Homo sapiens: one gene and its partners. The protein of the gene in region 4 interacts with the protein of the main gene of each other region in a pairwise test. Each region holds a gene or a part of one and is shown on either strand. Other genes may lie near its edges. The genes, in order: PAEP, MMD, ACSF2, ARL13B, FDFT1, MYADML2 and SEMA4G.

Region 1 (4,004 bases), on a different chromosome or scaffold from region 4:
CTCCAGCCTGAGTGACAGAATGAGACCCTTTCTCAAAAAAACAAAGCAAACAACAAACAAATAAAAAAAACCAAGAAAAAAAAAGTCAGCCCACAGGCACCGAGGTGGACAGGAAGCCAGTTGTCAGCTCCCCAGGGTTCCCAGCCACGGACGTAGCTGCTGCCTCTCACCCACGTTGAGCTCATGTGCTGTGAGACCCACCCAGGTACTGGCACATCATGCTCTGGATGGGGGTGGTGGTGTCCTGTAGGCAGAGAAACAGGAAATTGTCGTAGTCAGTATCGAGCAGCGTGGCCTCGTTCGCCACCGTATCTGGGGAAAGAAGAGAAGAACCAAAAGGAAGATGAAGCCTCCGTCTCAGCAGAGTCCTGTGCAGGTGTGTGGACATCCCACCACACTAAGTGGCTTCCTCATCCACTGACACCATGGGACGTGGCCCCTGCTGTGGACCATGATCAGGGAAGCCAGGGAGGAAAGGGGAGGAGAGGCAATGTGGAGGGCCATGGAGCCCCGGCTGAGGGGGAGAGGCCAGGTGTGCCGTGGAGAGGCAGACACGGCAGGCAGGGAGGCTGTGACCTGGAGAGACTCCAACTGAGAAGTCACGTACGGGTGAGGATGGCGGGAGATGGCACAGGAACAGGGCACAGGGGCGGGAAGAGGGAGAAGAAATGGACCTTGGAGAGTGGCTCGATTCTGGGGAGGGCAAGCAGGGTCAGAAAGGCCTGAGGCAAGTCCCAAGCATGAGAAGCAAACTGTATTTGCTGGGAAAATGTGCCCATGAGGGGATAAGAGGCCCCAGACCCTGACCACCTCTGTCTTTTTAAAAAAATAATAATTAACAAAATAGAACAAAATGTTGCAAATTGTTAGGAAGAATTCAGTGGACCAAGGACATGCTGTAAGCCCCTCTCTCTTCCCCCAGAGAGGCCTGGGAGCTCAGCCTAAGACCAGAGCTGCAGCCCCAGAGTGCGCAGGAGGCAGCCAGGCCCACGGGAACAGCAGCCACTTGCCCACCTGCCCACCTGCCCACCTGCCCACCTGCCCACCTGTTCACCTACCCACCTGCCCACCTACCAACTTGTTCACCTGGCCACCTGTTCACCCACCCACCTGTTCACCTACTCACCTGCCCACCTGTCCACCTACCCACCTGTCCACCTGTATACCTACCCACCTACCCACCTGCCCACCTGTTCACCTAACCACCTGCTCACCTGCCCACCTGTTCACCTAACCACTTACTCACCTAGCCACCTGCCCACCTACCCACCTGTTCACCTACCCTCCTGCCCACCTGTATACATATCCACCTACCCACCTACCCACCTGCCCACCTGCCCACCTGCTCGCCTGCAGCCTCCCTGGCCTTTTGTGAGGCCAGAGTGAACAGTGCAACAAAGCACCTGTCCCCTGTGCCTGGGCACAGTGCAGACCCACATCCAGTCATGTCATGCCAAGAATTAGTGCTTCCCCTGCCCTCCAGGTAAAAGATGCCTCTGGGGTCAGCATCAGGTTGACCGGAGTAAACACTCTGACTCCCTGAAGCAGAGAGAGTGGGGACAGGCCAGGCCCCACTCCCTCATGCCCCAGCAGAGCCGCCTCTGGGAGAGCGTGGCTAGCATGCCAGCACTGAGCCAGCCCTTGGGGCCTGGGGACACTCACAGTTGATCTTGAACTTCTTTGGATTCTCAGTCTTCTCTCCAAGGACCTTCTTCTCAACACAGCTGTTGTTCTCCCTGAAAGGTGGTGACAATAGGATGAGTGGCCACTTGAATTGGAGTTGCCTTCACTGTCACTCCTAAAATCAGGTCACCACGGGAACTTCCCCGGGTCCAAGGAGCACCGCAGCCCGCAGCCGCCCAGACCTTCTCCTCAGTCTGACCTGGGGCTGCACTGTGTGGTTGGCTGTTGGCCCAGAGCCTGGGGCAGGGGATCCAAGGGGACAGGGAACGTCTGGAGCCCTGGTTTTCCACCCCACCCTCATGGAAGGGCCACAGTGAAGCCCCTGGCTGTCAGAAAATGCCTGGGGCTAAGTCCAGCTCCGCCCAACCCACCCAGTCCTGGACCCCTGAGGGGGGAGACTGAGCCCCCGCCCAGCCCGTCTCAATGATGAGAAACCCACCATCTGTGCAGAACGATCTCCAGGTTGTCCTCGGGGGTGGGCAACAGTGAGGTGATGTGGACCCTCAGAGGGGCCTTCAGTGTCGCCATGAGGGAGATGTTGTTGGTCGCCATGGCCATGGAGTGCCAGGTCCCTGCCAACTGAGGGGGCCTTGGGCTGCACGGCGGTCCCACCCCACCATGGCTCTCGTTGCACCCGGTGCAGACGGGGCTGAGTCTAACTGGGATGGGTACAGTGAGCATTGGATGGTTGTCTGCTATCTACCAGATCCTGGGCTATGAAATTTCCTGTACTTAAAATGACCAGTGTGTGCTAACTCAGGAGTGTTCCAAAGTCCAAATAATGAGTCACCTAGGATGCTGGGAAACCAGAGAGGCCACCCTAAAGATGGAGAGCAGGGCTGAGGGCTTCCTGACGTCATGGCGTCCATTCTGTGCTTCCTGTAGGTTTCTGAGATCCTGGGCTTCCTGCCTGCCCGCAGCTCCCACCCGCCCCAGGCCTCCCACAGTAAAGTGCCCGCTCCCCCAGCCTCAAACCTTTGGGAGCTCCAGGTCCTGCTTGGTCTGGGGGATGTCCATGGCCGGGACACCACAGACCAGGGCCACGCCCAGGGTGAGCAGGAGGCACAGCATGGCTGCGGCTGTGGGTGGCTCTGAGCTCTGGAGCCAGAGGGATGCTGAGGCAGTGTGGGCTCAGGGGGCCTTATGTAGGAGGAGGGCAGACAAGATCCCCGCCCACAGCCTCGCCATGTGATTCCTCGAACCTGTGACTCATCCTTGGCCCCTGGGCAGCTTCCTCCACTGGGGCAATGGGAGGCTCTTCCCTGCGTCCACGCGGGAACCTCCTCTGTGTCCGGGCTGGGCAGTTCTTGGCAGGGCCTCAGGCGGGAGGGGCCTGGGTCGGGTCCAGGCTGGCAGCGGCGGGAGCACCTTCTGGGTTGGGGCTCCTGGACAATGTTGGGTCAGAGGCCAGCACTGAGGACAGCTGTGTCCAGGGCAGGGGTATGGCCTGTGGGGCAGGCAGAGGGCCTGAGAGCCCCATGGCTGCCCCAGGATGCCACAGACATCATGCCAGTGGGTGACTGACTGCACGGTCATAATCCTGACCTGTACCTTCCACTCAGACATCCCCAGGTGTGCACACCTGTGTCCCTCAAACAGCCAGCCTCTGGACAGGTGCACACTGCCTGTTAGCACTGTTTCTCTCTGACTCACAGGCAAGACTGGGTGGAAATGGGAGGCAGTGGACTTTCAGACTTTGTCCTACAGTCTATATTGGATGTACTTTTTCCCACAGGGAAGCATCACTTTGTAACTTACAATCGAGCCCGCATCTCACTCCCTGGAGAGCACTTGAGTCCTGAGGCAAGACACGGGTGTCCACTCCCACTCCCCCATCCATCAGAGCAGGTCATTCCGGCCAGAGCAGCTAGGCAAGAAATGGTAACTAAAGGCAGGCAGATTGGGAAGGGGGAGGTATACCTGTCTCTATTCGCATATAACATCATTGCCCAGGTACAAAATTGCAAGAACTCTACAAAACCCCTCCTAGAACCGAGTGAGGTCAGCAAGGTCAATCGCACAAAAATCCACCGTGTTCCCACACAGTGTCAAGGAGTAGACAGAACCCGAAACTGGAAATTCAGGATTTGTAATCACACACACAGCATGTAGGCAAAAATCTCACCAAATATGGACAGGACTTAAACTCTGAACCCAAGGAAGGGAAATCAAAGACCTAAGGTAAAGGACAGGCACAATGTGTTCATGGGCTGGAAGCTTCAACACAGCAAAGGTGTTAGCTCTCCTCAACTCAACCTAGAGATTTAATGCAATTCCTATCAAATTCTCAGCAAGATATTTTGTAGGTAGCTATAGACATG
Region 2 (3,500 bases), on a different chromosome or scaffold from region 4:
TTAAGAGTCTGTAAGACGTCAACAGGCTTTGCACAATAAATAATCCTTTTGCTCAAGCTAGTTTAAAGAAGTGTGAATGGGGGTTGGGGGTTGGTATTTTGTGCCACTAATGAGTTCTAACTACTCATTACCTTATTCATACACAAAATAAAAAATGGTACAGGGCTGAACCAAATGGTAGAACCAAGTTGCCAAAAATTGGCTAAAACGCATGACCAAGCCATTTTAGAGAGTGCCAAGTTTATTAATAAAAGACCAGCCAATACTCTTTCCCTGAGTTAGGAAGAGCCTGTTATCGTTAGATCAAATAAATAAAAATAAAGTGGCAGCCACTATTAACACAATACAGATAGTTCAGGTGGAAAATCCACTGGGGAATGAATTTGGGACAGTGAAGATATTTCACTTGGCCCACTGATGGGTTAAGATATTTAACTAGTGTACAAAATATGTACTTACTGAGTATAATCTACCAGATGGTTTGAAAACCAACTGTTAAAGAGAAATATACAGTTAGTAGCTTCAAAATTTATCCAAGCTATTCTCAAATATAGTTAACTATTATTAAGCATCATCTTTTCTCCCCTGATAATATTTTAAATAATTTTACTAATTTCCTAAGAGACAAGAGTGTTGCTATACAGCTCTTATTAGCAAAAAAGAAAATAATTACACTCTTGGGAAGAATGCTTTAAAAGTGTCCCAAGAATTGGAGGATATACCACATCATTGTCCTGAGACATAACAACAGAGCTATAAGTAGCATACCCTATTAGGAATTTTCAAGGCTAAAGAGCAAGGCCCCAAGATGGCTGTAGTTAGATGAAATTGAATGTGCTCTGTGTAGGGTGCAGTAAGTAGGATTTGTCTACCCACCACCAGGCTGCAGACTAAAATAGCAATTTATATCTCTGGCAGCCCAATCTAAAAATAGTCAAGCCATTACCCAGCAACAGGGATAGACTTTCACATTTTCTCCTAAAAACAAATAAACTGGATGGCCATGTTTGTGACAGCTTAGTCCCTGATCACCTGGAATAATTCACATTAAAAAATAAAAGTAGAAAGTTATACAGAAAAATATCCCACCCATGGTGACTTAAGGCACTCTATCCTGATGCACAGGGTAAGACACGGGCAATAGGGAAAGATAAGGGTAACTATCCTGGAAGCAATTCTCTAAATCTGGGGCTCAGTAGGATAGACAGCATAATTGTTCTGCTGGGAAAGTACAATACAATTTTCCCATTTCTCTCTAACCTGCCAGGGTGCAATCAAGCCTCCTCCACAGCCTCCTGAAGAAATCACTCCTAAAACCTAAATGGAAAAGCAGATGTAAAATGTAAATCAACTCCCACACTCTGGCCTTCATCTCTTCCCCGAAAAAAGAATGGGAAAGGTTCAAGTGCTGGTTATGGAAAACAGCATCCATTTATGGAAGACATCTCTATTTAAAGCGGAGTGGCCCTAATGGTTACTCAATGCTTGAGTAACCAACAAGCTCTAGAGGGTTTGAAGGAAGGTGATTCAGTCCTGGGAGTGGGAGCTGCACTTAATAAAGCTACTAGTTAGGCAGAGTTTTTTTACTCATTCCTTCACTTTCTCTTTCAAAACTCTCCTGCCTTCCCCCTTGCCCAACGTTCTTATCACCTCCTCCTTCCCCCATACCCCTCTCCCATGCCATGACAGAATTTCAAAACCATGGAGGGAAAGAACAGATCAGAGACCTGGGAACACTCCTTAGCACACTAACACACTTTAAATTCAACCTAAAGCACTGTGCCCACTGAGTAGATCTGCAACCCACCAGCAGATCTCAGAGGCTGATCTCAGTAGATCAAATCCCACAAGTGTTCCTCATTCTCCGAGTGCAAGTACCATCAACACTACCTTCAAAATATATTTCAAATAAGTCCACCTCATCACTTGAGGTCAGGAGTTCAAGACCAGCCTGGCCAACATAGAGAAACTCCATCTCTACAAAAATACAAAAATTAGCCTGGTGTGGTGGTGTGCACCTGTAATCCCAGCTCCGCGTCTCCTACCTTAAATAAAGACCTAACATCTCAGGTCTGTACAAATACAAAGTCTCTTAACTAGTCTTCCTGCTTGACCCAGTACAGACTCTCTTCTTTACATAGCAGCTACAGTTTTCCATTAGAAACAGATGAGGGGCTGGGCATGGTGGCTCACACCTGTAATCCCAGCACTTTTGGGGAGCTGAGGCGGGAGGTTGCTTGAGCCCAAGAGTTTAAGACCAGCCTAGGCGGTATAGTGAGATCCCATCTCTACACACAAAAAAAAATGTAAAAATTAGCCAGGTGTGGTAGTGTATGCCTGTAGCCCCAGCTACTTCTGACTGAGGTAGAAGGACTGCTTGAGCCTCGGAGGTCAAGGCTGCAACAGTGAGTTGTGATGGCACCACTGCACTCCAGTCTGGGTGACAGAACAAGACCCTGTCTCAAAAACAAACAACAACAAAAAACCCAGATCACATCACACACCCCAATCCCAGCTTAAAGTCTGCCTCTGGCTTCCCAAAGTGCTTACGATAGCACTGTAACACAGTGTTCAGAGGCCCACAAGCCCTGAGTGGTCTGGGCCTCACTACCCCTCCAGTCTCAGGGTGGCATCTTTCTCTCTCTCCATCCTCTGGCTATACCACCTCCTTTCTGCTCCTTAAACACATCAAGGTTGTGTCTGCCTCTGGGCATGTGTACTTGCTGTTTACTTCTGTCTAGGATATTCTCCAGAATGCTCAGCTCTCTTCTCATCCTTTCAGCTCAGCTCAGATGTCACCTCCTCAAGAGAGGTTTTCCAGACTATCCTAACTGAAGTATCATTTCAACCCTCCCCATCCAACCAGAGCCCTATGTCACAATTGGTAAGACTTTGATTTGTTTTAGCTTATTTTTTATTTCATCTTTTCCCACTGTAGTGTGAATTCCATGAAGGCTGTCTTGTTCACCTTTCCATTACCAAACTGAAGTACAATGCCCAGCTTATTGCTAGAGCTTAATAATTGTTGAATGAATAGAAAGACATTCCAGCTACTGCTGAACTATTTTGTCTTAACAAAGATATCCCATAGTCAATTAGTTTTACTGTGGACACAGCAGGTTCTGTAAGTAAGAGAAACAGGCAGCCTTGGAACCAAGAGAACCCCGAATCTCACACACACACAAAAACACTTAAAATCCAAGACAACGGATATTCCAAGGGCCCCTTCAACATCATTTATGTTGCAACGTATAAGTGGACCCCTCTTACTATTAGCTCCCCTTTATGACTGAGCATATTTGTTCAGGAAAAGTGTCTACTGTCAATAGTGCCAATCTTGACTTAATTATTAAATAAAGGAAGATGGCATATATAAGGAGACTACCCCATGCCTATGATTTAGTGCTTTAAGAACATGGGAAAAAAGACAATAGGTAGCCCTGTAAGACTTCTAATACTGTAGATTAAAATGCTTTCCCACATATCCAGTTTTGAAGCTA
Region 3 (3,500 bases), on a different chromosome or scaffold from region 4:
GTGTCATTGCTGGGTCCCCTGCACCTCCAGAGTTGATCCGAGCCATCATCAACAAGATAAATATGAAGGACCTGGTGGTGAGTGGTGACTGCGGCCCGGGCTGTGGGCAGGCCAGGCCTGGGATGACAGCAGATGGACAGACATGGGGATGAGTCCAGGCCAGATGTTCAAAGGAGACCCTCTCAGCCAGCCCTCCTTCCAGAAAGCAGATGTGAGAAAAGATAGTCTGACCTCATCAGCACCTGGTGGGTGAAGGAGATAGGTGGCAGGGGAGTAAATATAATACATACATACATTTATATTTATAGAAATCTCAGGAAGAAATTGCAGCATGGGAAGATGGACAGCAAAGCACCGATGTCCTGCTAGAACGTCCTGGCAGGTGGGGGCTGGCAGAGTTGGGGCATGGGCTTTAAAACCCTTTCTGGAAGCAAGGGGTGGGGCAAGGATCTGATGATTGTTTCCACGTGGCAGGGAAAGAGGAACAGAGGAAGGATGATCCTGGGAGGGTGGCCATCCTGATGACCAACCTGTTGTGGTTCTGATTGACTTGGGGGGGGGGTCTCAGCAACAGCTTCTCCAAGAGGAGCTGGAGGGTGGGGAAGGCATGAAGGCTGGGGAGAGGCTCAGCCTTCCTTCTCCCCAGGACACTGCTGGGTGGAGCTGGGTTGGTAGTGGAGTGCCCGAGGCCCCCTGCCAGGACGTGTCTAGGTGTAGGCAGCTCTGTGCATCAGCAGAGGCTGTGGGGAGAAGGTATGGGTGGAGGTGAGAAGGTCAGTAGTCTCTCCGGTGGAAGGCAGAGGCCAGTCACCAGGACTGGCTGGGTCAGAACCTGCAAAGAGGCAAAGATCGATGTCAGTACTCCAACAACACAGATGATGCTTGAAGAAAATGGTGGAAGTCCTGGGCAGGACCTTTTCCTCCCTTCAACAGGGGACCCAGTCGTCCCCTCCTCTCTCTGTAAAAATGGAGGGTCTGCCTGACCCTCCAGGGCCAGGGGGTATCCTGGAAGATACCAGCTCACTTGCTGGAATCACCAAAGAGGGACATAGGGGACCTGTTTACCTGGCCCCCACCTGTTTAATGGCGGCCAGCTTTCTTGGACCTCTTGGTGGGGAACTTGCAGCTGCGGAAGGCGTCCGTGTCACGGATGTGCTGGCCCTTGAACTTGGCAGGTGAGGCACAGGTGGCATCTGGGCGGGAGGCCTTGGCTTCCAGCCACCTGGAGAGACAGAAACTTGCTGGGGCTGGGGAAGAAGGTGGGAGTGCTGGGGGGAAGGGCAGTGAACTATGGGGCCAGGATTGACTTGGCCACAGGATAGTCTGAAGCTGTCATCTTCATTTTACAAATGGGGAAACTGAGGCTCCCAGGGTCCCATGCTTATTAGGTAGCAGATCTAGGATGCATGTCCAACATGTCTTAGTGCAGGGCTAATGTGCCTCTATCACATGAGGGTGGGCTCTGGGAGTGACATGGAAGTGTTCTTACCGCCGAAGGCCCCGGAGCTGGCAGGTACACTTCCAGGGGTTATTGGTAAGGGCGAGGGTCTCCAGGCTGTCGAAGGGGAAGTTGGAGGGTAGCTGGTTCAAGCGGTTGTTCTCCAAATGGACGTGTTTCAGCGTGGTTACACCCAGGAAGGCACCATCTGAGAACTGGGGAGCAAGGTGGGAGCAAGGTGGGAGCAAGGTGGTCATGAGTGAATGAGTAAGCACCCGAGTGCCAGAGGGGCAGGATCCTTCCCTGAACCTGAGCCATAGCACTTTGAGGAGTTTCCCAGTTTTCAAAGCAGTATGACCAAGTGATCTCAGATAATCCAATCTACACAACCCCCTTTGAGACAGATGGTGTTATTTTCTTTTTTTTTTTTTTTTCCTTTTTTTTTTTTTGAGATGGAGTCTCACTGTGTTGCCCAGGCTGGAGCACAGTGGCACGATCTCAGCTCACTGCAAGCTCCGCCTCCCGGGTTCACGCCATTCTCCGGCCTCAGCCTCCTGAGTAGCTGGGACTACAAGTGCCCGCCACCATGCCCGGCTAATTTTTTTGTATTTTTTTAGTAGAGACGCAGTTTCACCATGTTAGCCAGGATGGTCTCGATCTCCTGACCTCGTGATCTACCCGCCTCAGCCTCCCAAAGTGCTGGGATTACAGGCGTGAGCCACCACGCCCAGCCAGGTGGTGTTATTTTCAATATGCAAATGGGGAAACGGAAAAAGCGCAGTCCTTTGCCCTGGGTCACAGCAGTGGGTAAACAGTAGCCACAGGACCACACCCAGCTCCTCTTCCCCTGGCACCACAATCCCTGCACAAACACTGGGACTGTGGGGCTGCCAGAGTTTGGCCCCAGCAATCCAAACTGGTACACGGTGAACTTGGTCTGTGCTTGGTGGAGTGGGCAGTGGGCCCAGGCTCCCCACAGTCCCAGGGTCCCAGGACTTCCCTCAGCTCTGTCCTCACTGCTCCCCCACTGCCAGCCAGACGCTATTTGTGAAGCCACCTTGGTGGAGCCTTTGGCCAGGTTGGACGGCTCCAGAGGAAATGTTCTATTGGTGCCCACACCTTTGCCCAGGCGCCACAATTCCTGTCTGGCCTCCCCTGCCCCAAACCAGCCCCTAATTCGCTGCTCTGCTGCCCACTGAAAGACCACTCTGGCACTGGTGGGCCACAGGGGACTCCAACTTCAGCTGGGGAGAGGCAGGGCTGAAGAAGGGCAGGCTTGAGCAGGCTCCTTCCACCCAGACAAAGGTTGGCTGCTGCCCAAGTGAGATTCTGCCCACATCTCCACACCCGCACCCTTTCCTGTGGCCCACATTGAGGTATGAAGGTCTCCAGTAACCAGACTCTCCTCTACCTTGTTGGTTCCCCACCCAAACCTCCTGGCTGAAGCCCCTGTACCAGGGTGATTTTTCCAGTCCCAGAGAAGGGATTCTGCTCTGATCCAAGGTAGCCCCACCTGGCCAGACACTGGGCACCCCAGGGGAGAAAGGAATGAGTGAGGATGCAGACAGGAGATGGGTCTAGTGACGGAGGAGGGCAAAGGGCAGTTAGCAGTCTGGAGACAGTGAGTCACGCCAGTCTTCTCTGTGGAGAGACACCTGGGGTCTTGGGCCAAGGATTGACAATAGTGGTCTTGCCTTTGCCCCTTCACGGAGCCCATGGGCACGATGCTTGCATCCTGGGGGAGCCCTTGGTCCCACGCCTACTGAGCTGCAATGGACTTGAGAATGCAGTGAATTGTGTCTGTGTGGATTGGGCAGGGCCATCCACCAGGGCCTCTATGGGGCATGGAGAATGTCTTCCTCAGGCATTTGCTTCCCCTCACTCCCCAGTCCCCCACTCCCCCTTAGCACACATGCACAGCCCCCACCAGGAACAGGGTCTCTTTGTGGGCCTGATCTGCCCAGCTCCTCTGGAAGGCTCCTCAATAAACAAACCTTCCTTTATGGGGTGGTAGGTTTACTGGAGACGGGAAAAACAGCAGAGGAGGGGTGGAAGGCCCAAC
Region 4 (3,500 bases):
CATGGAAAGATAGTTCATGGAAATAACAATGAAATAGACAACAAATATTATGGTATTAAGTTATATCAACAGAAAAATGGGAATGTGATTTCATAGGTTACAAAAAATTCTTTGAAAACATTGCCTTTTAATTGCTATCACTTTTATAAAAACCAAGTTATACTGAACCTATTTGAAAGGACAAAAAATTAAAATTAAAAAAAAAAAAAAAACCTTACTATCTGACACAGGCACTTGTGCTCATTGACCAATTTTTCCAGAGATAGACATTCAATGACATCAGCTTCTCCTAAAGCTCCTTCTTTATCTTGTTTATTTGCCAACCTGAAAGATAATTAAAGTACTTTTATACAGCATATATATAATTGGATGGAAACTTAAAGATATTTTGACCACATTCTTTTTTTTTTTTTTTTTTGAGACTGAGTCTTGCTCTGTTTCCCAGGCTGGAGTACAGTGGTGCAATCTCAGCTCACTGCAACCTCCGCCTCCCAGGTTCAAGTGATTCTCCTGCCTCAGCCTCCAGAGTAGCTGGGACTACAGTTGTGTGCCACCACGCGAGGCTAATTTTTTGTATTTTCAGTAGAGACTGGGTTTCGCCATGTTGGCCAGGCTGGTCTTGAACTCCTGACCTCAAGTGATCTGTCAGTCTCAGCCTCTCAAAGTGCTGGGATTACAGATATCATCCACCATGCCTGGCCTGACCACATTCTTTGATTCCCAAGTTTTAAATGTACTGATTACAGAACACACTAGTATCTTAAAATGTTGTAGCATCAATTTTGTCATTTTTCCCTTATTATTGCTAAAATAGTTTTTAAGTACTGGCCTATAAAAGGAAAATCAAATAAAGTGTCAAGAAAACATAAACAAGAGATCAATATGCCAACAAAACAGAAAAAGCTACAAAACAGAAAAATAAGAGGACTAATTTCCACAGGTCACATCCATAAATTATATTCTTATCTTCTTAAAATACAAACTGTAATGTTTTAAATGCCCAAATATTCATTCTGAACTTTTAATATTTGAGCTCATCTACAATTCTAATGTGTGAATGTGTCCACATAAATGTGCAATTTACTGAAGACCCAAGGCCACTTCTAATATACTTGGCAAAGCACTGGGAATTAAAAAAAAAAAAAAAATTGTACTCAATTAGAGACAAACTGGACACCAACAAAATGGAAAACCAATATATTCTACAGAAAAACAGGATTTACCACAATTTACCACTATTTAATTATATAACATAGATTTAAAAGTTTAATAAAATACTGCCTTGCTCAAAGTTTGACAGACTCTTTAGGTTAAAAAAAAAATTAAGTACATAGACTAAGAAATCTAACGAACCCTTCCCACCTATCTTTAAAAATTATCAAAACTGTGTCATTCTTGCTTATCTATATACCTTCTTTTTTTTTGTATTTCCCAAGTTACCATTAAAATCTACATACCTTCTATTTTGCTGCCTGAATCACATTACTTCACCCAGATATTAAAAAATCATTACCATGATACCACTATCACACCTAACAAAATTAACAGTAAGTCTTCAATATTACTCAATTTACTCAATATTCTCCAATATCATTTTACAAGTGTTATGTTTAAATTCAGGTCCAATATACGTTACTTATCACTTAACTCTTTTTGAATCTATATTATACCTGCCCTCCCCACTACCACCCCCATGACTCTTTTCCTCCCATGACATTTGTAATTTTTCTTTAGAATTCCCATGTTTGGGATTTGGCTAATATCTTCCTTATAAACTTATTTAACATACCTATCCTATATTTCCCGTATCTGGTGGTAAGAAGCTGGATGAGTTTCAGATGAAATCTTTTTGGCAAGCATACTTCGTAGGTGGTGCTTGTATTTAGGGAGGCATATAATATCACTTTTATATAATGTCCTATTTTGGTGGTATAAAATTAACTAATGGATTTACATTTAGCCTGATCCATCCAAAATAAAGTTCCTCATTAATCTTTCACTTAATGATTTTAGCAGCCATTGATGACCTTTACTTAATTCTATTATTTTACCAAAGTTTATGAAACAGTAACTTTATAGTTCCATATTCCTTCTGCATTTACTAGCAGGATTCTTGCTAAAAATAAGCTTTCACCAACTACTTGGTGCCTCTTAAAATTCACAAAGTCAAGATAAATGTTTGATCCTTTGCCTTTATTTCCTGATTTTCAAAATAATGAATTAATGGCGTAGCAACCTCCGAAGGTGATCAGGTTGATTTAAAAAAAAAAAATCCTATAAATTTAAGGATTATGAGTGCAGTTTTGTGATGTAAATGTATTGCATAGTGGTGATATATTGCATAGTGGTGAGGTCTGGGCTTTCAGTGTAACCATAAGCTTAATAATGTGCATTGTAGGTATTAATTTCTCATCTCTAACTCCCCTTCCACCCTCCCACCTGTCCAAGTCTCCAATGTCTATTAATCCACACTCCATGTCAATGTGTACACATTATTTAACTTCCACTTGTGAGAACACGCTAGATTTGACTGTTTCTGAATTATTTCACTTTAAAAAATGACCTCCAGCTCCATCCACGTTGCTGGAAAAAACATGCTTTTTTAAATAGTTGAATAGCATTCCATTTTATGTATGTATATACAAAACACACACACAAACATTTTCTTTCATCATCCATTGAAGGACATTTAGGTTGACTCCCTACCTTTGCTACTGTGAATAATGCTGTGATAAACATCTTGAGTTCAGATATCTTTTCTTGTATAATGATTTCTTTTCCTTTGGATAGGTACCCAGTAGTGAGGTTGCTAGACTGAATGGTAGTTCTTTTTTTAGGTCTTTAAGAAATCTCCATACTGGCCGGGCACGGTGGCTTACGCCTGTAATCCCAGCACTTTGGGAGGCCGAGGCGGGCGGATCACAAGGTCAGGAGATCGAGACCATCCTGGCTAACACGGTGAAACCCCATCTCTACTAAAAATACAAAAAACTAGCCGGGCGTGGTGGCAGGCGCCTGTAGTCCCAGCTACTCGGGAGGCTGAGGCAGGAGAAGGGCATGAACCCGGGAGGCAGAGCTTGCAGTGAGCCGAGATCGCGCCACTACACTTCAGCCTGGGCAACACAGCGAGACTCCGTCTCAAAAGAAAAAAAAAAAAGAAATCTCCATACTGTTTTCCATAGTGATTGTACTAATTTACATTCCAAGAGTGTATAAACATTCCTTTTGCTACACAATCTCGCAGACATCTGCTATGTTTTAACTTTTCAGTAACAGCTAAAAATTCTGACTGGTGTGAGATGGTATTTCATTGTGGTTTTAATCTGCATTTCTCTGATTAGGCATATTGAGCATTTTTTTCATATGCTTGTTGGCCATCTGTATGTCTTCTTTTGAAAAATGACTATTCATGTCTTTTGCACATTTTTAATGGGGTTGTTTTTTGTTGTTGATTTCCTTGTAAGTTTTGGTTATTAGTCTCCTATAGGATAAAGAGGTCG
Region 5 (3,500 bases), on a different chromosome or scaffold from region 4:
TTGTCCAACCTTTTCTCAAGGTTTTAAGTTTCCTTGCGATCGGTCAGAACGTGCTGCTTTAGCTTGGAGAAGTTTGTTATTACCAACCTTCTGAAGCCTACTTCTGTCAACTCGTTAAACTCATTGTCCATCCAGTTTTGTTCCTTTGCTGGTGAGGAGTTACGTTCCTTTGGAGGAGAAGAGGCGTTCTGTTTTTGGAATTTTCAGCCTTTCTGCTGTGGTTTCTCCCCATCTTTGTGGTTTTATCTACCTTTGGTCTTTGATTTTGGTGACGTACAGATGGGTTTTGGTGTGGGTGTCCTTTTTGTTGATATTGATCCTATTCCTTTGTTTGTTAGTTTTCCTTCTAACAGAGGCCCGTCAGCTGCAGGTCTGTTGGAGTTGCTGGAGGTCCACTCTAGACCCTGTTTACCTGGGTATCACCAGTGGAGGCTGCAGAACAGCAAATATCGCGGCCTGATCCTTCCTCTGGAAGCTTCGTCCAAGAAGGACACCCACCTATATGAGGTGTCTGTCGGCCCCTACTGGGAGGTGTCTCCTCCCAGTCAGGCTACATGGGGCTCAGGGACCCACTTGAGGAGGCAGTCTGTCCGTTACTGGAGTTCAAATGCCGAGCTGGGAGAACCACTGCTCTCTTCAGAGCTGTCAGGCAGGGATGTTTAAATCTGCAGAAGCCGTCTGCTGCCTTTTGTTTAGATATGCCCTGCCCCCAGAGATGCAATCTAGAGAGGCAGTAGGCCTTGCTGAGCTGCGGTGGGCTCCACCCAGTTCAAGCTTCCTTGCTGCTTTGTTTACACTGTGAGCATAGAAGTGCGTACTGAAGCCTCAGCAATGGCGGGGAGGCGCTTCCCCTCACCAAGCTCCAGCATCCCAGCTTGATCTCAGACTGCTTGGCTAGCAGCAAGCAAGGTTCCATGGGCATGGGACCCCCCGAGCCAGGCACTGGAGGCAATCACCTGCTCTGCCAGTTGCGAAGACTGGGAAAAGCACAGTATTTGGGCAGAGTATACTGTTCCTCCAGGTACAGTCACTCACGCCTTTCCTTGGCTAGGAAAGGGAAATCCCCTGACCCCTTGCACTTCCTGGATGAGGTGACGTCCTGCCCTGCTTTGGCTCACCCTCCATGGGCTGCACCCACTGTCCAACCAGTGCCAGTGAGATGAACCAGGTACCTCAGTTGGAAATGCAGAAATCACCCATCTTCTGCATCGATCTTGCTGGGAGCTGTAGACCAGAGCTGTTCCTACTGGGACATCTTGGAAGCAACTCTGGGTCTGAGTTTCTGTTTGTTGCCCTGATGTATATCCCCAGTGCCTAGAATGATACTTGTTACATAGGAAGTGCTTGATCCATGTTTGCACAAATGAATCTTTCTCATAATGAGGTTTCTCTAAACAAGCTGTTCTCCCAAAAACTTAAACCCAGCTTTATGTTGAAGCATCTCATTATACATTGGAAAGATGAAATGTGTAGTGAGACTTTGAATCTTCTTTTGAATCTAGAAACATTAGCATTTTTAGACCATTCTATTTTAATATTTATGAAATTTATGAAATAATAAGAAACATGAGGCCGGGCTCAGTGGCTTATGCCTGTAATCCCAGCAGTTTGGGAGGCCAGGGCTAGTGGATCATGAGGTCAGGAATTTGAGACCAGCTTGGCCAACATGGTGAAACCCCACTTCTACTAAAAATATAAAAATTAGCTGGGCGTGGTGGTGCATGCCTGTAATGCCAGCTCCTGGAGAGGCTGAGGCAGGAGAATCATTTGAACCTGGGAGGCGGAGTTTGCAGTGAGCTGAGATCGTGCCATTGCACTCCAGCCTGGGCAACATTGCGAGACTCCATCTCAAAAACAAAAACAAAAACAAAAAAAATGTGTGACCTAAATTAGGCTTATAGATGAACCATTGCAGTCATGATTAATTCCGCCATTGTTTGCCTTGTGATCTTTGGTGCCATGTCTGTACATATTTCATGATTTCTGTGTTTTTACGGTTTCCATTTCAGATCTCCCTTGAGTTTAGAAATCTGGCTGAGAAATACCAAACAGTGATTGCCGACATTTGCCGGAGAATGGGCATTGGGATGGCAGAGTTTTTGGATAAGCATGTGACCTCTGAACAGGAGTGGGACAAGGTTAGTCTCATAAAACAGTGTCTGTGTGTGATGTATTAGACAGAGCTGGCAGTCCTCATAGTGAAGCTCAGAACAAGAAAAGTTGTCCAGTATTTTCAGCCCCTCTGGTTTTACAATTCATCTGTTTAGGTTGAATGTCTCATCATAAACAGTTTATTCCAGAGTTAATTCCAAACCAGCAGCTATGTAGGATATCAGCCAGGCTAGGAGTAGGGTACTGGAGAGAAGTGCTTATCTAGACAAAGGGATGTAATTGACCATGAAGATTAAAACTACACATCAAAACATAAGGTAGGGTTAGGAGTCTTGCCTATTTTTCATAGGAATGGTGTTTGTGAGACTTACTCATCACTTCTGTGGAAGTAAAGACATTTTATTTATTTATTTTAAAGCCAGTCAGATTTAGCAGGCAGAGACATTTCAGACATCTAAAGTGTTGATGTATTTCATACCTTTAACTGTGCTTAAATTAGGATCTCCGAAAAGATGCTGCTACATGGTCACTACGTTAGTGTAGGTCCAAGGTCTTGGGCCTCTTAATTTTTCAAACCTCAAAACTTGACAGCAGTTATCTTTGGAACTGCTGATTTGTGCTTCCTAAGTTAACAGCATACAATGACTGCTAGAAATCAATTTCTGCATTTAAGGTGAAGTTAGCCGGGTACTATGGTTTACCTGTAATCTCAGCACTTTGGGAGGCTGAGGTGGGAGGATCATTTGAGCCCAGGAGTTAGACACAAGCCTAAGCAACATAGCGAGACCCCGTCTTTCAAAAAATTAAAAAATGAGCAGGGAATTGGTGGCATGTGCCTGTGGTCCCAGCTACTCTGGAGGCTGAGGTGTGGGAGGATTGCTTGAGCCCAAGAGTTGAAGGTTGCAGTGAGCCATGATTGTGCCACTGCACTCCAACGTGGGTGACAGAGCAAGACACCATCTGAAAGAAAATAAAGTTGAAGTTAAAACTTCTGGCCAAGAACCAGCACTGGTTATGATAGTAACTCATTTTCTGTTGTGCAGATTTATTCAGGAAACTTAATTTTAGGTTGTTGAATAGAAGTTTTGATCAGATAAAATTGAATTAAAAAAAATTTTTTTTGAGACAGGGTCTTGCTGTTATCCAGGCTGGTGTGTAGTGGTGTGATCACGGCTCCCCGCAGCCTCAACCTCCTGGGCTCAGGTGATCCTCCCACCTCAGCCTACCGAGTAGCTGTAACTACAGTGCATGACACCATACCAGGCTCATTTTTGTACATTTTTTGTAGAGAGAGGGTTTTGCCATGTTGCCCAGGCTAGTCTCAAACTCCTGGCATCAAACAGTCCTCCCACTCTGGCCTCTCAAATGTTGGGATTACAGGCATGACC
Region 6 (4,157 bases), on a different chromosome or scaffold from region 4:
TCTCTGCCCTGGGTTTCTGAGACAGAACTTCTAAGACCCTTTCAGACAGAGGCAGGAGGAGTCTTTTATTGTGGTATTTGGTCTTTGACCCCGGTTCCTGACATAGAGCTCCTAAAACCTTTATAATCTCCTAACCCATAGGATCATCTGACATGGGGCTCCCAATCCCCTTGAATTTCCTGGGTGACAGGAGCGTCTTTTGTTCTAATGAGGCGACTCCTGGTGGGCTCCTGGACAGCCTTGGGGTGGGGGGTTGGTGGCAGCTACTATGTGATCAGAAGGGCAGAGCTTCTAGCCCCACTTGCAGCCTCCAGGAGGGACAGGGGCTGAAGGCTGAGCTGATCACCAGTGACCAATGATGTAATCAGTCATGCCTACGTAATGAAGTCTCCATAAAACCCAAAAGGACAGGGTTGGGAGGTTTCCAGGTGGCGGAATGCTTGGAGGGTCCTGGAAGCTCCCTGGAGAGGCCTCCAGATGAACAGCATTGCCTCTATCTGCTGTTCATCTGGGTCCTTTGTCACACATGGGGAAACATAAATAAAGTGTTGGCGGAGCTCGGTGGCTGACGCCTGTCATCCCAGCGCTTTGGGAGGCTGAGGCAGGCAGATCACTTGAGCTCAGGAGTTCCAGACCAGCCTGGCCAACATAGTGAGACCCCATCTCTACAAAAAATACGAAAATTGGCTGGGCGCAGTAGGTCACGCCTGTCATCTCAGCACTTTGGGAGGCCGAGGCAGGTAGATCATTTAAGGTCAGGGGTTTGAGACCAGCCTGGCCAACATGGTAAAACTCTGTCTATATTTAAAAAAAAAAAAACAATTGGCTGGGTGCGGTGGCTCACACCTGTAATCCCAGCACTTTGGGAGGCCAAGGTGGGCGGATCACGAGGTCAGGAGATCGAGACCATCCTGGCTAACACAGTGAAACCCCATCTCTACTAAAAATACAAAAAATTATCCAGGCGTGGTGATGGGCGCCTGTAGTCCCAGCTACTCAGGAGGCTGAGGCAGGAGAATGGCGTGAACCCGGGAGGCAGAGCTTGCAGTGAGCCAAGATAGTGCCACTGCACTCCAGCCTGGGCAACAGAGCAAGACTCTGTCTCAAAAAAAAAAAAAATTGGCTAAGTGTAGTGGCACATGCCTGTAATCTCAGTTACTGGGGAGGCTGAGGTAGGAGAATCGCTTGAACCCAGGAGACCGAGGTTGCCGTGAGCTGAGATTGCACCACTGCACTCCAGCCTGGGCAACGGAGTGAGACTCCATCTCAAAAAAAAAAAAAAAATGAGTTGGGCGTGGTGGTGCACATCCGTAATCCCAGCTACTTGGGAGGTTGAGGTGGGAGGACTGCTTAATCCCAGGAGGTTGAGGGTGCAGTGAACTGTGATTATGCCGTCACACTCCAGCCCGGGCAACACAATGAAACCCCATCTCCAAAAGTAAATCAATAAATAATAAAATGAGGAAAGTGCTTCCCTGAGTTCTGTGAGCCACTCCAGCAAAGTCACAAAACTGGAGGAGGGGCCATGGGAACCTCGGTTGGCCAGAGGGCGGGTGACACCTGCTACATTTGGTCATCTGTCCTCAGGTTCCACACCCAAGTATTCAACAAACCTCAGACTGAAAATACAAAAAATACTGGCCCGGCGCGGTGGGTCACGCCTGTAATCCCAGCACGTTGAGAGGCTGAGGCAGGCAGATCACCTGAGGTCAGGAGTTTGAGACCAGCCAGGCCAACATGGTGAAACCCCATTTCTACTAAAAATACAAAAATTAGCCGGGCGTGGTGGTGGGTGCCTGTAGTCCCAGCTACTTGGGAGGCTGAGGCAGGAGAATCGCTTGAACCCGGAAGGCAGAGGTTGCAGTCAGCCGAGATCGTGCCACTGCACTGTAGCCTGGCGACAGAGCAAGACTCAGTCTCGAAAAGAAGAAAAGGCCGGGCGCGGTGGCTCATGCCTGTAATCCCAGCACTTTGGGAGGCTGAGGCGGGCGGATCACAAGGTCAGGAGATCGAGACCATCCTGGCCAACGTGGTGAAACCCCGTCTCTACTAAAAATACAAAAAATTAGCCAGGTGTGGCAGTGGGCGCTGGTAGTCCCAGCTACTCGGGAGGCTGAGACAGGAGAATGGCGTGAACCCGGGAGGCAGAGCTTGCAGTGAGCCGAGATCGCGCCACTGCACTCCAGCCTGGGCAACAGAGCAAGACTCCGTCTCAAAAGAAAATACAAAAAATAAATAAATAAAACAATAAATAAGGCCAGGCGCAGTGGCTCATGCCTGTACATCCAGCACTGTTGGGAGGCGGAGGTGGGTGGATCACCTGAAGTCAGGAGTTTGAGACCAGCCTGACCAACCAACATGGTGAAATCCCGTCTCTACTAAAAATAACAGAAATTAGCCAGGCCTGGTGGTATGTGACTGTAATCCCAGCTACTCCAGAGGCTGAGGCAGGAGACTTGCTTGAACCTGGGAGGCGGAGATTGCAGTGAGCCAAGATCATGCCACTATACTTCAGCCTGGGTGACAGAGGGAGACTCCATCTCAAAATAATAGTAATAATAATACAAATAATACAAATTTAAAAAGCAATACTATGTAACAACTGTTTACATAGAATTTACATACCAGGTGTTATAAGTAATCAAGAGGTGATTTAAGTCCAGAGGAGGGGGTTATATGCAAATAACATGCCATTTTGTATCAGGGACTCTGGCCTTGTGGATTCTGGTGTTTTGGAGGTACTGGATCCCATCCCCCAAGGATACAAAGGGACAGCTGTACTTGGGACTGGCATCTGAAGTGGAGGACACTCTTGTGGGACTGAGACCTTAGCCTGCAGGATCGGGTACTGTCTCCAGGGAGAAAGCGTCACAATGGAACAGGGTTGGAGGACGCCCAGCGGGTGTCCGCGGAGACTGGATGGAACCGGGTTGGAGGACGCCCAGCGGGTGTCCGCGGAGACTGGATGGAACAGGGTTGGAGGACACCCAGTGGGTGCCTGCGGAGACTCGCTGGAGCAGGGTTGGAGGATGCCTAGTAGGTGTCCACTGGAGACTTGCTTGGTGTTTGGGGAAAATCCCCACACACATTTTGGTGACCAGAGATGAAGTATTCCATGTTGGATGTTGACTGTTGAGTGTGTGAGAGCAGGGAAAACACTGTTTTTTTTTCCTGTCTCAGACACCAGCCCAGCCCTGGAGTCAGCCGTGTCTCCCAGGAACCTGGTTCCTTGTGTTGGGGGAATGGCATCAGAGACCAAGACATGGGGGCCAGGCACGCTTGTTGCTGCTGTGGTATACATTCACAAACGTTAACAAATATTTTTATTTTTACTTATTTATTTATTGAAGATGGGGTCTCGCTCTGTTGCCCAGGCTGGAGTGCAGTGGCATGATCTCAGCTCACTGCAATCTCCGCCTCCTGGGTTCAAGAGATTCTCTTGCCTCAGCCTCCTGGGTAGCTGGAATTACAGGCACGCAGCACCACACCCAGCTAATTTTTCTATTTGTAGTAGAGACAGAGTTTCACCATGTTGGTCAGGCTGGTTTCAATCTCCTGACCTCGTGATTCACCTGCCTCGGCCTCCCAAAGTGCTGGGATTACAGGCGTGAGCCACCACGCCCAGCTGGCTTTCTTTTTTTAAGTACAGAGTTTAAATTTGTAATGTTGTCACACAGTGGAAGTTCCCTGCTTTCAGTCCCTGAATAGCAAAGGCTATGCCTTGGCCATCGCTGCTGGAAGAGACACGGCTCAGTGTTGGATGAATGTCCTGACTGTTTTCGCCCCAGAGAATGAAAGGCGCCAACCGTCCTGGGAAAGGTGAGAAGTCAGCGTGGACAAGCTGGGGTGACCATCACTGCAGAGCTACAGGCCAGCGTCCTCTTCGTGTCCTAGGGCTCGTTTTGTTCCTGGTCCTGCAGGACAGCCTGGGGTCACCGTCACTGCGGAGCTACAGGCCAGCGTCCTCTTCGTGTCCTAGGGCTCGTTTTGTCCCTGGTCCTGCAGGACAGCCTGGGGTCACCGTCACTGCGGAGCTACAGGCCAGCGTCCTCTTCGTGTCCTAGGGCTCGTTTTGTCCCTGGTCCTGCAGGACAGCATGGCAGCGATTGACCGATTGACCATTAGGTGAGCTGCGCCTCTTTCTCTTTCGGCACAAA
Region 7 (3,500 bases), on a different chromosome or scaffold from region 4:
TTTTTTTTCCCCGTTTTTTCTTCAGAAAACGGACCTCAGAAAACCAGGACTAGCTCTACTGTCGGGGGCAGGGTGACCCCATCAGTAACCTACAACCCCTCTAGAACTTCACAACTCCCTCTCACCATGGAGTTTGCATTTGATGCAGAAAGGCATGTGATCCCTCCCTCCTTCTGACCTCTTAGCTGGGGATTCCATGGCCACACAACCCTGTGACTCCATGTCCCCCCGATTCCAGGACCCCCCATGGCCCCATGATTCCTTGACTCCTATGACCTTATGACCCCTGACCTTCCAAGTGACTTCCTTGGACTTTGACCCCTGTGACTGTGCTTCCCATTCCCCGCCCCCACAACCTGTGACTCTGGCTCCCTTTGGGGGTCTTGTTAGTCTGGGCCTCCCCAGGAAGATGTGGGGGAGGCTCTGGCCCCTCCTCCTCAGCATCCTCACAGCAACTGCAGTCCCAGGACCCTCACTGCGGAGACCGTCTAGAGAACTAGATGCCACCCCTCGGATGACCATACCCTATGAAGGTTAGACCCTCAACCTCAAAAGGCAGCAGAAGCCAGGGCTGGGGGTGGGGAGGCACCCCAGAACTAGGGCTCACTGTTCCTGCTCTCCCCAGAGCTCTCTGGGACCCGGCACTTCAAGGGCCAAGCCCAGAACTACTCAACACTGCTGCTGGAGGAGGCCTCAGCAAGGCTGCTGGTGGGAGCCCGAGGTGCCCTGTTCTCTCTCAGTGCCAACGACATAGGAGATGGGGCTCACAAAGAGGTCAGGCCCTGGAACCTGGACCACCCAGAGGGTCTCTATGCTTATCCAGCTCCCTGGGACCTCAACTTCCTTAAAACCCTGCCAGCCTTCCATAGCCCCCTGGTCAGACAGCACTGCCCTTCCCAGCCCAGGTGTTCCTTGCATTCAGTGTTCCTCCTGAAATTGATCCCCACCCCAATTTCCCCAACTCTGTGGGGTCCTATTGCCTGGTCCTATGAGTAATAGGTATTGGGGTCAGTGCATCAGCCTATTCCCTTTGCCTCCACTAGATCCACTGGGAAGCCTCCCCAGAGATGCAAAGCAAATGTCATCAAAAAGGGAAAAACAACCAGGTATGTGGTCTGCCCTGTCCCCAGCTCCTTTCCTCCCCTTCTTCCTCAATCAGGGATGCCAGGATTGTTGGGGACACAGATGGGTAGGTACAGACCTGCCAGTCAATCTCAGCAACCACAGTAAACATTGTAAGTATTGCCAGAGTGGCAAGCCATGGGCACAGCATTTTTTTTTTTTTCTTTTTTTGAGGTCGGATCTCACTCTGTCATCCAGGTTGGAGTACAGTGACATGATCATAGCTCCCTGTGGCCTTAAACTCCTGGGCTCAGGGGATCCTTCCACTTCAGCCTCCTGAGTAGCTAGGACCACGGGCACATGCCACGCCCAGCTAAGTGTTTTATTTTTTGTAGAAACAGGGTCTTGCTATGTTGCCCAGGCTGGTCTTGAACTCCTGGCCTCAAGCAGTCCCCCTACCTTAGCCTCCCAAAGTGCTGGGATTACAGATGTAAGCCATTGCCCCCGGCATCTGGGCACAGTACTTCTAATTCAACCATCTGGTGGCCTACTAGTTTGTCCCGCAGTGGCATCTTCATCTCCTCTGGGATCCCAAATAATCAAAATGGCAATAAGTAGGCTGAACGCGGTGGCTCACATCTGTAATCCCAACACTTTGGGAGGCTGAGGGTAGGAGGACAACTTGAGTCCAGGAGTTCAAGATCAGCCTTGGCAACACAGCGAGATCTGTCTACAAAAAAAATACAAAAATTAGCCAAGTATGCTGGCGTGCACCTGTAGTCCCAGCTACTTGGGAAGCTGAGTGGGAGTATCACTTGGGCCTGGGAGGTTGAGGCTGCGTGAGCTATAATTAAGCCACACATTCCAGCCTGGATGACAGAGCAAAACCCTGTCTCAAAAAAACAAACCAACAAAAAACAGTAAGTAACCTCTACAGATGCTTACTTACGATGGGTTACTTACCAATAAAACCATCATAATAAATTGAACCATTGTTAAGTCAGCAACTATCTACAGCAAGTGATGATTTAGCTATTATCTCAGTTAATTCTAAAATAACCCTATGAAATAGTATTATCCTGCATTTTGCAGATGAGAAAAATGAGTCTTTGGTCAAGGAATAGGTCAAATACCCAGTATTCCATGGACAGGCATTAATGAAGCATCAGCCCTTTCCAGCTAAAGAATAGGGTGTCTCCAGGGGTCCCATGTCTGGCTAGGTAATGGCTCCATCTGGAGAGCTTTTACAAAATAAACGGCCCTGGGCTGGGCATGGTGGGTCACACTTGTAATCTCAACACTTTGGGAGGCCAAGGCAGGAGGATCACTTGAGCCCAGGAGTTCGAGGCCAGCCTGGACAATATAATGAGACTCTATCTCTAATAAAAAATAATTAAAAAAAAATTCCCAAGATCCACTGGGCCAAGGTGGGCCAGGGGTGGTGTTGGGACAGCTCCGTTTAAAAAGGCATCTCCAAGAGCTTCCATCAAAGGCTGCCTCTTGGTGCAGCACAGGTAGAAAATGGGGCTGGGGAGGCAGATGGAACCAGGTCATGGAAGGCCACAGATGCCCAGCTGGGAGTTTGGGTTTTATTCTGTGACAGTGAACACCCTCAGAATTTGATACTTTAGAGGCTCTAACTTTAATGTATCACCCAGGTATATTATAAATGCAGATGCTAAACTTAGTAGGTCTGGGGAAGGGCCCAAGAGTCTGCAATTCTAACAAGCTCCCAAGTGAAGTTGATGCTGCTGGTCCCCAGACCACACTTTGGATAGCAAGGCTTTATAGAACAGTTCCCAAAGCATGTTCTGAGGAACATTAATTTTCAAAGGAGGGGTTTAAATGTCAAATGAGTTTGGGAAACACTACATGCCCAGTCCCACAATGCACAGCAACATCCTTCAGGCTCTAGGAAGTAAGCCCAGTAAAGATAGGTTTCACCTGTGGTTTCCAAAGTTATTTGACCAGAGAATTCCTCCCTACCCCCCTTTAAAAAATGTAAACATCCGCTGGGCACGGTGGCTCAGGCCTGTAATCCCAGCACCTTGGGAGGCCGAGGCGGGTGGATCATGAGGTCAAGAGATCGAGACCAGCCTGGCCAACATGGTGAAACCCTGTGTCTACTAAAAATACAAAAATTAGCCCGGCATGGTGATGCACATCCATGCGAGTAGTAGTCCCAGTCACATCACCATGGTGTTGAGAGTAGTAGTCCCAGCTACTCGGGAGGCTGAGGCAGGAGAATCTCTTGAACCCGGGAGGCGGAGGTTGCAGTGAGCTGAGATCATGCACTGCACTCCAACCTAGCGGCAGAGCAAGACTCCGTCTCAAAAAAAATAAAATTAAAAAAATAAATAAACATCTTGGGGAAACATCACTTTAGGAATATTTATCTGGCCCCAGGCACTGGATGGATGAAAATAGGGTGAGTCTGG

What was found.
Region 1: the proteins of ARL13B (region 4) and PAEP interact in binary tests that used the Homo sapiens proteins (3 or more experiments, as listed by UniProt).
Region 2: the proteins of ARL13B (region 4) and MMD interact in binary tests that used the Homo sapiens proteins (3 or more experiments, as listed by UniProt).
Region 3: the proteins of ARL13B (region 4) and ACSF2 interact in binary tests that used the Homo sapiens proteins (3 or more experiments, as listed by UniProt).
Region 5: the proteins of ARL13B (region 4) and FDFT1 interact in binary tests that used the Homo sapiens proteins (3 or more experiments, as listed by UniProt).
Region 6: the proteins of ARL13B (region 4) and MYADML2 interact in binary tests that used the Homo sapiens proteins (3 or more experiments, as listed by UniProt).
Region 7: the proteins of ARL13B (region 4) and SEMA4G interact in binary tests that used the Homo sapiens proteins (3 or more experiments, as listed by UniProt).

What each region holds. Positions count from the first base shown.
Region 1 is NC_000009.12:135,560,552-135,564,555, reverse strand, and holds the start of PAEP (glycodelin isoform 1 precursor), read right to left. Parts: upstream 2,801-4,004; 5' UTR 2,755-2,800; coding exon 2,659-2,754; intron 2,263-2,658; coding exon 2,123-2,262; intron 1,737-2,122; coding exon 1,663-1,736; intron 313-1,662; coding exon 202-312; intron 1-201. UniProt on the Homo sapiens protein: Glycoprotein that regulates critical steps during fertilization and also has immunomonomodulatory effects. Four glycoforms, namely glycodelin-S, -A, -F and -C have been identified in reproductive tissues that differ in glycosylation and biological activity.
Region 2 is NC_000017.11:55,415,336-55,418,835, forward strand, and holds part of MMD (monocyte to macrophage differentiation factor), read right to left. Parts: intron 1-3,500. UniProt on the Homo sapiens protein: Involved in the dynamics of lysosomal membranes associated with microglial activation following brain lesion.
Region 3 is NC_000017.11:50,464,218-50,467,717, forward strand, and holds part of ACSF2 (medium-chain acyl-CoA ligase ACSF2, mitochondrial isoform 2 precursor), read left to right. Parts: coding exon 1-77; intron 78-278; exon of another isoform or gene 279-308; coding exon of another isoform or gene 309-382; exon of another isoform or gene 383-1,080; coding exon of another isoform or gene 1,081-1,222; intron 1,223-1,489; coding exon of another isoform or gene 1,490-1,653; intron 1,654-3,500. Other genes in the region: CHAD (chondroadherin precursor), read right to left, coding at 1,081-1,222, 1,490-1,653. UniProt on the Homo sapiens protein: Acyl-CoA synthases catalyze the initial reaction in fatty acid metabolism, by forming a thioester with CoA. Has some preference toward medium-chain substrates. Plays a role in adipocyte differentiation.
Region 4 is NC_000003.12:94,032,155-94,035,654, reverse strand, and holds part of ARL13B (ADP-ribosylation factor-like protein 13B), read right to left. Parts: intron 325-3,500; coding exon 219-324; exon of another isoform or gene 214-218; intron 1-213. UniProt on the Homo sapiens protein: Cilium-specific protein required to control the microtubule-based, ciliary axoneme structure. May act by maintaining the association between IFT subcomplexes A and B. Binds GTP but is not able to hydrolyze fit; the GTPase activity remains unclear.
Region 5 is NC_000008.11:11,819,741-11,823,240, forward strand, and holds part of FDFT1 (squalene synthase), read left to right. Parts: intron 1-2,009; coding exon 2,010-2,138; intron 2,139-3,500. UniProt on the Homo sapiens protein: Catalyzes the condensation of 2 farnesyl pyrophosphate (FPP) moieties to form squalene. Proceeds in two distinct steps.
Region 6 is NC_000017.11:81,944,434-81,948,590, forward strand, and holds the start of MYADML2 (myeloid-associated differentiation marker-like protein 2), read right to left. Parts: upstream 2,801-4,157; 5' UTR 2,626-2,800; intron 1-2,625.
Region 7 is NC_000010.11:100,972,504-100,976,003, forward strand, and holds part of SEMA4G (semaphorin-4G isoform 1 precursor), read left to right. Parts: intron 1-25; 5' UTR 26-409; coding exon 410-533; intron 534-625; coding exon 626-774; intron 775-1,043; coding exon 1,044-1,106; intron 1,107-2,481; exon of another isoform or gene 2,482-2,581; intron 2,582-3,500. UniProt on the Homo sapiens protein: Cell surface receptor for PLXNB2. May play a role in axon guidance.